Linked DNA regions of Homo sapiens: region 1 is linked to region 2. The links come from fine-mapping of genetic effects on gene expression. A gene starts in region 2. The other region holds a variant in brackets. All regions are shown on one strand. Distances are from middle to middle. Region 1 overlaps LOC101929710 (a long non-coding RNA gene). Region 2 holds the start of GPR150 (G protein-coupled receptor 150).

Region 1 (5,503 bases), 370 kb before region 2:
TACTCCTTTCTGCTTGTTAAAATGTGTAGTCTTTTGACAGGTTTCTGACTTTTCCATTTATGGCATAATAAAAAGTATATAGCACATGCAGTTTTCATTTTTGTATCATCTGCCAGGAATCTGGAAGCTAAATTTAGTGCTCAACTGCAATAATTATCTTGAACTTTTAGGTACAATTAACTTTTTCTCCTTTATTATTTGGTTCATCTTCTTTTAATAGTGTCTTATTAATTTCAGTCTCAAATTCCTTTTTCAATGTATATTTCTGAGTTAAATTTAACATAAAATTCAGTTATTTTAAATATACGGTTTGATGAGTTATCAGAATTGTATATAGTCATGTAACCATCACCATAATCAAGTCATAGAATATTTCCATCACCCAAAAAAATTTCCTCTTTGCACTGATCCTCCTCCACCCTCCCCCTAACACCCAGCCTCAGCCTATAGTTTTACCTTTTCCAGAATTTCTTATGAATAGAATCACATGGAATATAATGTTGTGATTTCTTTTAACATAAGGTTTTTGAAATTCATCCATGTTATCAATATTTCTATTATTGCAAAATAGAAATCCATAGTATGATTATACCACAATTTGTTTATCAGTTACCCAGTTGATGGATAATTGGATTGTTTCGTTAGACACCATTACAAGTAATGTGGTTATAAACACTGACACACAACTCTTTGTATGGACACATATTTTCATTTCTCTTGGACAAATACCTACAAAATAGGAGAGTGTTGGGTCATATGGTTAGCATATGCTTACTATGGACAGTATCAAGTTGTTTTCCAGAGTAGTTGAACACTTTGCAGACCCACTTGCAAAGTAGGAAGTTCCAGTTGCCCCACATCTTTGTCAATGCTTGAGATTGCCAGGCTTTTAATTTTAGCCATTCTAGTGAGTTTGTAGTGGTATCTCTTTAATTTAAAGTAATTAATTTAAATTTAAATTAATTTAATTTAAATTAATGCAAATTAGTTTTAATTTGCATTTCCCTGATAACTAGTGATGTTGAGTACCTTTTCATGTGCTTACTGGGCAAACATAGATGTTCTTTTTTGAAGCGTCTGTTCAAATCCTCTGCCCAAAGTTGTTTTCTTATTATTGGTTGTAAGAGTTCTTTATATATTCTGAATTCAAGCCTTTGGTCAAATGTGTTTTGCAGATACTTTCTCCCAGTCTGTGGCTTGCCTTTTCATTTTCTTAATGTACCTTTCACAAAATAAAATTTTAAATTTGGGGGAAGTCCATTGTTGATTGTTTTCTTGTAAGAGTCATTTTTGTGATTTAAGAAATCCTTTCTTAACCTAGGCTTTCTCAAACTTGGCACATACTGAACTTTGTTGCAGGGGCTGTCTTGTGCATTGTGGGAGGTTTATCAGCATCTTGGGCCACACCCACTGGCTAGCAAATGCACCCTTTCCACTCCAGTTGTGATAACCAAAAATGTCTCCAGACATTGCCAAATGTCCCTTGCAGTACAAAATCACCCCTGGCAAGAACCACTGGTTTAACCCAACACTACAAATATTTCCTCCTATAATTCTTTTTCTAGCTTTAGCTCTTACATTTAAATTTTCTAGCTTTAGCCCTTACATTTAAATTTACAATCCACATTAATTTCTGTGTAGGGTCTAAGGTAAGGATCAAGGTTTATTTTTTCCATAAAGATATTCAATTGTTCTAGTGTCATTTGTTAGAAAAATTATCCTTTTCCCCACCAAATTACCTTGGTGCTTTTGCTGAAAATCAGTTGATCATATAAGTAAAGCTCTATTTCTGAGCTCTCTATTGTGTTGCATTGCTATATCTCTATCTTTATGCTGATAACATGGTCTTGATTATTATAGCTGTATAATAAGTCATGAAATCAGGAAATCTATTTTAATTTTTAAAAAGTGTGTTTTCTACTTCCCACACTACACTGATGTCAAAAAGTCTAAATACCTCATTTTTTTTCAAAATTGTTTTGAATTTTCTAGGTCCTTTGCCTTTCCGTAAATTTTAGAATAAACTCAACAATTTTTTTAAATAAACTTTTTATTTTGGAATAATTTTAGATTTGCAGAAAATTTGTGAAAGTGGTATAGTTCTCACATACCCCTCACCCAGTTTTAGTTTCTCCTAATATTATTATCTTACATTACTGTGGTACATCTGTCAAAACTAAGAAACCAACATTGGCATTATCACTATTAACTAAACTAAATACTTTATTTGGATTTCACCAGTTTTCCATGAATGTCTTCTTTCTGTTCCAAGATCTAATCTAGAATATCACATTGCATTTAGTCATCCTGTCTCTCCAATCTCCTGGTCTGTGTCAGTTCTCAGCCTTTCCTTGTTTTTCATGCATGACCTTAACAATCTTGAAGAGTATTGATCA[C/T]GTATTTTGTGCAATGTCCCCCAGTTTGGTTTATCTGATGTTTTTCTCATGATTAGACTAGGCCCATGGGTTTTCAAGGAAAAAAAAAAAAAGCATAGAGAAGTACCCCTCTCATCACATAATATCAGGAGACACCTGATATCCACATAACATCACTGATAATGTTAAAGTCAATTTCTTTTTTATATGCTTGCTAGGATTTTGATTGGAATTGAAATGATTCTATGTATCGGTTGGGAGGACAATTGTCATTTTAATAACACGGAGTTTTCCAATCCATAAAATCCATTTAGAGAATTCTCTTTAGAATTTTCTTTAATTTCCCTTGCCTCCTCCAAGCATGGATTTCTCGTCAAGATCCATATGCTTCTGCTCACTCTTCTGAACCTTTAAGTAGCTGCTGCATATTATTAATGTCATTTCCCAGAGTCTATAGTTCTTACCTGCAGAAGGTTAGTTCAGTGAGATCTAATTCATCTGTTACTGAAAATAGAGCCCAACATTGCCTCAAATACTTTTTTAAAAATATTGAAACATAGTATTTGTACATATTTATGGAGTACAAGTGATATTTTGTTACACACATAGAATAAGTAGTGATTAAGTCAGGTATTTGAGTATTTATAATTTCTGTGGGTTGGACACATTTCAAGTCCTCTGTTCTAGCAATTTTGAAATATAAAATATATTGTTGGCCAGGTACGGTGGCTCACACCTGTATTCCCAGCACTTTGGGAGGCTGAGGCGGGTGACTAACTTGAGCTCAGAAGTTCGAGACCAGCCTGGCCAACATGGTGAGATCCCGTCTCCACTAAAAATACAAAAATTAACCGGGAGCAGTGGCACGTGCCTATAATCCCAGCTACTCAGGAGGCTGAGGTAGGAGACTCGCTTGAGCCCTGGAGGCAGAGGTTACAGTGTGCCCAGATCACACCATTACACTCTAGCCTGGGTGACAGAGTGAGACCTTTGTCTCAAAAAAAAAAAAAAAAAAAAAAAAACAAAACTTGTTGTTAACTATAGTCACTCTACTCTGAACATTAGAATGTATTTCTTCTATCAAACTGTATGTTTGTACCCATTAACTAGCCTGGAAAAAACAGACAAATTTATTATCCTTAAAATACCTTTAGAGTATGGTCATCATAACAATCTGTGCTAAGCCAACCTGCAATCTTAAAGTTCACTAACAGCTGGTAGACACACAGCCTGTGATCGTGAAACAAAGCTTTTCTCTGTGTGAAAGGAATAGACTATATGGAATTGATGTCTTCATACTTGGTTAAAATTTCAAATCTTAAGAGACCAAGCATAGGAGAACCATATATTTAATTCTTTATGAAAATTATCCAATGTCCTTGTTGTGGCAAAGTGGGCATCTTTCTGTGCAGCAATAAATTTTTGATGGTAATACAGTTAACTTTTTTGGAAAGCAAATGCACAAGAACCTTTAAACTATTCATATATTTCACCTAGTATTTCCACTTCTGGGACTCTCTCCTGTGGAGAAAACACTAATTAGAGTTAGAAGGAAGAGTGACCCTTAAGTACAAATATTTTCACAAAAGCATTGCTTATAATACTTTTCTAAAATGGGCTCGGTGTGGTGGCTCACACCTGTAATCCTAGTGCTTTGGGTGGCTGAGGTGGGAGTATCACTTGAGCCCTGAAGTTCAAGGCTATAGTGAGCTATGATCACACCACTGCATTCTAGCCTGGGTGACAGTGAGACACCATCTCTAAAAATAAAGATAAAAAATTAATTAATTTTTTAAATGATACTATGTAAAATATCCAATAAGAAGATAAATGCTTATATTCACATAATCATTTTTAAATGTTTATAAAAAGTTTTTGACATTATAATGTTAAGCATATATAATATGCTGTATGAGCTCAACTCTAATTTCTTTTAAGTGTAGAACAAAAAGACTAGAAGATAATATAATAATTTTAAAGGTGACTGGTGGGACTGTAGATGTTTCCTTTTTCTTCTTTCTACTATTTTTCAATAGTAAGCCAAGAAAACAGTAAGATATTTTTAATATTATAAAAACAAACCTTATTATTGAATTTTTGATCCAGAAAAGAAAAAACTTCAGAATACTAGTTTGCCCCTATACTTTATTGATAAGGAAACTTCCTCATCAAATTGTTTAAACTCCCTATATCTCCTATTGATAAGGAAACTTCCTTTAAACTAAGTGAGCTCACAAAGCAAGTTGGCAATTCTCTAAAACTGACATTTCCTGACTCTGGACATGATACTATATTTTGGTCATTTTTGCTGTGTTCCAGACTCCATTTCTAGGCTTAAGGGAACAGACATGGTTCACATCAGCAAGATTTAATTAAAATAATTTTTAAATTATTAAATAAAATATTTCAAGCTTATTTTTAACATGAATGCTCTAGAATCTGGAAAATGGAAGGAATCTTAGAGTTGTGTTTCCAGTGAATATTTCAAAGGGTGAGTAGAAGTGGAATTTTATTCTAAAAAGCTTTCTAGTTTTGAGATTTAAGGGTCTAATAAAGAACTCATGTTACATTTTATTTATTAAAAGCTCACTGTTTCCTTGTTAGAGTTATTACTGTTTGCTTGCAGTTACCCAAACAGACATGGCAGGGTACAACAAGATCTTGTAAATCAGGACTTTCTGTTCTGAATGGGTTCATCTTTACTGTTGACCTCTCAGCTAATGGTATAGTACCTGATAATTATCTACTAAATCATACATTGGACATAATGATCTTTAACTTACCTTCAAATATCCCAAACAATTTTTCCTAAAGTCTTTCTAAATTAAAAAAAAAGAAGACATTTATAACTTAACATTTCATATCCCTGGAAGATAATCCAATGGGAATATATAAGGTTAATAGAGTGTTCTTATCAAAAGTGATCTGGTCTGTTTGACTTACTGTTTGGAGTCCAGGTAATCAGGCCTATTTACTAGTTTAAGAATGTTCAGCAATTAGCAGTGTTCAAACAGCACCAATCTGCTATGTTATTTCAGCTGGGAAAGCAGCTTATATGAACCAATACGGCTTCCTTTCTAAAAATAAATGACAGCACTTTCTACTCACTGGGGAGCTGGTCCTTGGTC
Region 2 (5,255 bases):
ACATTTGATTTAAGCACGATTCAAAATAAGTAAATACAGATGATAACACAGCAAATACTGAAAGTTGGGTAATCAGCAAAAATAAATGGCATTATCCAGAGCACTATAAATGCGTGAAAGAAAACTGCAAAAATAACTGTTTTTGTTTTTACAACTTTCCAGTGGCTCACTGTCTCCAAATGGGGAGATATGAGAGGAACTGTAGGGAAGAAGAGAAACTGGAAGAGCATAGGGAAATGTAAACATGAGAAGGGAATAGGAGAGTGGAGGAAGGGGACAACTTCAGTGTCACTCTCTCACAGACTCTCCTGCCCCTTGTGATCTGGACAGACCCTGGCAGGCCTCGAGTTCCCTGGAGGTTGCGCCTTAGCGACAGATGACCCGTCTCTGACCACCAAGCACCTAGAAGGCACTTTCGCAGGAGCAAGGCAGGGGTCTGGGGCGCGGAGGGGGTGGGCGCAAGCCGCCCTCGTCCAGCGGTTCCCGCCGAGCATGGTGATAATGAGGGTGGGGCCAGCGTTGGCGGTAGAGCGCCTGGTGGCCCCGGGGCCCCTCCTCGTCCTCCGCGCCTCCCTGCGGCGCGCAGCACAGAGAGCCCAGCCGCTTCCGCAGCTGTCGCCGGAGCCGGCAGTCGCCCGCCTGGAAGAAGAGGTAGACGAAGGGATTGAGAGCGCTGTTGGCCATCGCCACCACGCGCAGCGCCGCCGACAGGCCCTCTCCCTCCCAGTCTCCCGCGGGCCCGGACGACCACGCGGCCGCCAGCCGGGCGGCAAAGTAGGGCAGCTCGCAGCCCACGAACAGCAGCGCCAGCAGCAGGCTCATCTTCAGGCTCTGCACCTTGGCGCGGGGCAGCGCGCTGGGCGCAGGGGCTCGACCTGGGCTCGCCGACCAGGGCGCTGCAGCCGCGGGGGCCTGCGGCCGGTGCCGCCACCAGACGGAGAGTAGGTGGCCGCAAGCGACGCCCAGGACCGTAACAGGCGCGACGAAGCCCGCGACGGCCTCGTAGAACGCGTAGACCTGCAGGTGCCAGCGCGGCAGGGGCGCGAAGATCCCGTGGCAGCGACGCTCCCCCGGCCAGGCGCGGGCGGCCGGGGGCGCGCCTGGCTGCAGGGACGTTGGCGGCGGCGGCGGCGGCAGCGGCGAGGGGGAGTCCCCGCGCACCACGAAGGCCGGGGGCAGCGCCAGCAGCAGTGCCAGCAGCCAGCCCAGGGCGGCGAGGGCACGCGCGGGCAGCGGCCGGCCGTGCGGAAGACGCACCGCGCGCCGGCGCTCGAGGGCGATGAGCACCACGAGGTGGGCCGAGGCGCCCCGCCCGGATGCCTGCAGCAGCTGCAGGAAGCGGCACGCCAGGTCCCCCGTGGCCGCGCGGGGCTCGCCCAGCAGTTCCCAGGCCAGCTGTGACAGCGCCGTGCCCCCGCACGCGTACAGGTCCGCCAGGGCCAGCTGCACCAGCAGGAAGTCCATCTTGCGACGCTTGGGGCCCGCCCAGGGCCCGCCGCCGCCGCACAGGCGGCACAGCACTGTGGTGTTGCCTGCCACCGCCACCACCAGGATGACCCCCAGGAACACCAGGCGGACGCGGCGGCTGGGCGGCCCAGAGGCAGGGGCTCCTTGCCCCAAGGTCAGGTTGAGACCCCAGCCCAGCAAGATGGGCACGGAAATGTTGGGCGCCGGCGGCAGAATTGAGGGGCTAAAGAGATCCTCCATCCTTGTCCCGGAGGAAGAGGAGGCACCGAAGAGGGCGGGCAGGACGCGGGAAACCAAAGTGGAGGCGAGGCGGCGCGGGGAGCGACGCTGGGTCTATACGAGTTCCCAAAGTTAGTTGAAAAGGCACACGCACAGAGAGGGAGATGGATTCGGGCGGCTTTGCGCTTAGTTGTTTTTGTCGATTGTCCTCGTGATTTGTCACTCAAATGTGGGTTGTACACTCGAGGAACACACATGATTCCTATTCTCCACCTTCCCCGCGTCTTCCCTCCCATTCCCGGCGGGTACTCTTCCAATCTCTGCAGCGGCCCCCGACGCTACCCTCGCGGAAGCCGCGGACCCCTGGGCGCTGAGAACCTCATCCATTCTCTATTTACGTGTAAAGCACAGCAGGACAGAATGTCGCTTTGCTTGGCCATTGTATACGGCCAGTGTTATGCCAGCACCCACACAAGAGAGGACCTCTTGACTGAGATTGTACCACACGCCCCCACCACCCCAATGTGATTGCCAGTAGGAAAAAAATAGAAAAGACATTAGTTTTTATTTTAAAGGTTTGAAATGCCATGGATCTGCACGAGCATGAGAAAAACAGGAACACAAGAAACCTAACAGCGTTTTGAGCAAAGAGGAGACCTATTAGCTGAATTTTGATCAAGATGTGTCTTCTCTGTCCAAGAATGAAAGTATTTTAATTAGAGGGTACTAAAGTCAATGATGTTGCTTTTAGGAGTGGCAGTGTTGCAGATCGTTCCAAATACTAGGAGCAGTGGGTCACAGCTGCTTTCTTGGTGATGTAAAATTCATTTCATTAGTCTGAAGAGGGCATTAATAGGTTTTATGCAAATGGTAGTGCATTTATTGCTTTTCTCCTAATATTTTCATCCAGTGAAGGATGCGTCATCACACTCCTCATTCTCTTGATTCTGTTTTCCAGCAGATGGGAAGTTGCTAGGAGGGGCTACGCCTCCAATAAGCCTAGAGAAAAGGTGACTAAGAAAGTGATAAGGCGGCCAATTTTTTTAAAAAAGAAATCCAAGTCACAGGAAATGGTTTAGATTAAATGTTGCTGCTTTCATTTTAGCCTTGTCTCCTCACAAACACATTTTAGTTTCCCTGTTGGAAGCATCCATTTGTCTTTTTATGCACCCTCCACGTTAATCATGGTGAAAGTAGAATTTCCTGTACTTCCTGGCCTGGGGGCCAGGGAGGTATGAGTGTTGTCTAGGGTTCACATTCCCAATCTGAGGAAACATTTGGAACTTTAAGATTCATGGCCTAGGAAGATTTGGTGGGTTCCATGATAGTCCTGCCAGCTGCTGTAGGAATCCCATTTCCCAAGCTGTTGTCCTTTGGCCAGAAACCTTGGTTATTTTCATCATCATCTCTGTGGTGCCTCGCTCTGGTCTGACAGGTTGTAGTTATCAGTGGGTATGTGTTGAGTTGATGAATTAGTGGATATACGATGCTTTTCAGATACCTTCGAGCATAAATGCCTGCCTTGACTATAAATCCATCACCTAAGAAAAAATTCCTTTTATACTATGCCAGTATTGTCCAGAGGAGCCCAAGGAAGCTCTGTGGAGACATAGGAATAAGTGTTCCTGGTGGGACATTTAAGAAAGCTAGAGTGATAGCCTTGGAAAATCTAAAATCCTGGTTTGATTTTCATACTCTCCCTTTAGAACTTTTTATCCAAGGCCTTTTTCTATGCACACACATCATCCCAGTTTATAATGCACTTCTTCCAGGGAGCCTTCTCTGAGCAATGTTCATCATTCAGTGATTTTCCTAGCCAGTATCATTTCAGTGTTTCTCAAGATAGTCTATCATTTGTCTCAAATTTGTTGAAATGCTCTTATATATTAGCATTTCAAAATGACTATAGTGAAATTTCACAGAACTTTAGTAAGATCTGATAAAACATTGATTTTCAACAAATTCTTTTTTTTTTTTTTTTTTCCCTTTTTGAGACAGGGTCTCACTCTGTTGCCCAGGCTGGAGTGAAGTGGCATGATCATAGCTCACTGCAGCCTCGACTTCCTGGGCTCAGGTGATTCTCTCACCTCAGCCTCCCAACTAGCTGGGACTGTAGGCAGACACCACCACACCCAGCTAAGTTTTGTATTTTTTGTAGAGGCTAAGTTTCGCCATGTTGCCCAGGCTAGTTTTAAACTCCTGGGCTCAAGAATCTGCCCACCTTGGCCTCCCAAAGTGTTGGGATTACAGGCATGAGCCACTGGGCCTGGCCTAAACTAATTCTTATTAAAATTATACAATGCACATAGTTTTGAAAGTCAAATGGAACTAGAAGGCTGATAACATAAAGAGTTCCCTGTCCTATACATCTCCACTTCTTTATCCCCTCTTTCTAGAGGGAACCAATTTAGACTCTATTTGCTCTTTCTTCTGGCATTGACTTAATTCATAATAGTAAATAATATATATGTAATGCTATTCATTGATTTAACAAATTGATATATTATCTGTTAACTTCTTATTAAAGACTTATCTCTCGCACCTCTGTCACTATTTCCATTTCCCATACCATTAGAACAATACTGTAATTTTGGGTTAGACTTATATTTGGTGTTTATATTATTATGAAACAAAAATATTCACAGTTGAGTTGTATATTGTGAATATTATTTTTTGTTATTTTTAAAGTTAATAATTGCCTTTTCTTACTTTTCATTGTTATCATAGCTAATTCTTCCTGTACCCTCAAATAGTCCCCCCAAGCAATTTCCACAAGGTCAGTTTCAAAACGTAATATAGCAGCTCCAATTTTTTTTCACGGAAACCTCTTTACCAGAGACTTTCATTTTTCTCTTATTTGGGCTAATTTCTCCCAAGGCCTACTGCATAACTACCATCTGCGGACCTCCATTTGTTGTCGTCATTGAAACTTTCTGCCTTTCTCTTGGGTTGCAGTTCCTGTTTCTTGGATCTCTGGTCTTTCTCCTTGATTTCTTCCTTTTTGGTAGAACACATCATCTAATATTTCATAAGGTTTACAAGGTTGTACAAAGCCTGAGAACTAAGTGGTAAGAGACCTCATTGTACTCCTTATTTGAGTCATGCAGATTCTGTCTGGACATGTTGCCCTCTGGGCCAGCGGTCATCCTGGCATCTCACGTCAGCATCGTCCTAGGGATTCCTTTCACTTATCTCATGCTGGTTCTCTTGTTTTCTGATTTAATGGATTTTTTTCTTTCCTGGTTTATTTTCTTGCTTGGGAAGAAAGCACCTTTCAGTGACTTCTTGAGAGAAGGTAACTATTTGGGATCCCACATGTCTGAAAATTTCTTTATTCTACCCTATTGCCTAACTGATTATTTGGCTGGGTTTGGAATCCTATTTTTGAAAATCTTTTCCTTCTGAATTTTGAAGGCATTACTCCATTCCCTTTCTGGCTTCTGAGTGTTTGTGTTGAGAAGACTGAAGCCATCTGATTCATGTTTTGCTTAGATATGATCATTGTTTTTTTCTTTCTAGAAGCTTGTTATTATTCTCTTTTTTCTAACCAATTTTACAAAAATGTTTTT

The links.
Region 1: its variant is fine-mapped to the expression of GPR150 in whole blood (INTERVAL, PIP 0.95).

Annotation. Positions count from the first base shown.
Region 1 is chr5:95,989,392-95,994,894 of GRCh38, reverse strand. The region is part of intron 1 of LOC101929710 (a long non-coding RNA gene); the gene reads right to left. The region is part of intron 2 of LOC105379096 (a long non-coding RNA gene); the gene reads left to right. It also overlaps a transcript of CAST not described here. Among named protein-coding and RNA genes, the nearest start is that of ELL2, 30 kb to the right of the region's middle. The variant C/T (reference allele first, on the strand shown) is at 2,397.
Region 2 is chr5:95,616,728-95,621,982 of GRCh38, reverse strand. GPR150 (G protein-coupled receptor 150) reads right to left here and starts at 1,896. Exons shown (of 1, transcript NM_199243.3): 1 at 1-1,896. The coding sequence starts at 1,707. The coding sequence ends at 403. RefSeq lists silencers at 266-325, 546-995, 704-998, 1,016-1,065, 1,156-1,555 and enhancers at 29-528, 1,725-2,340.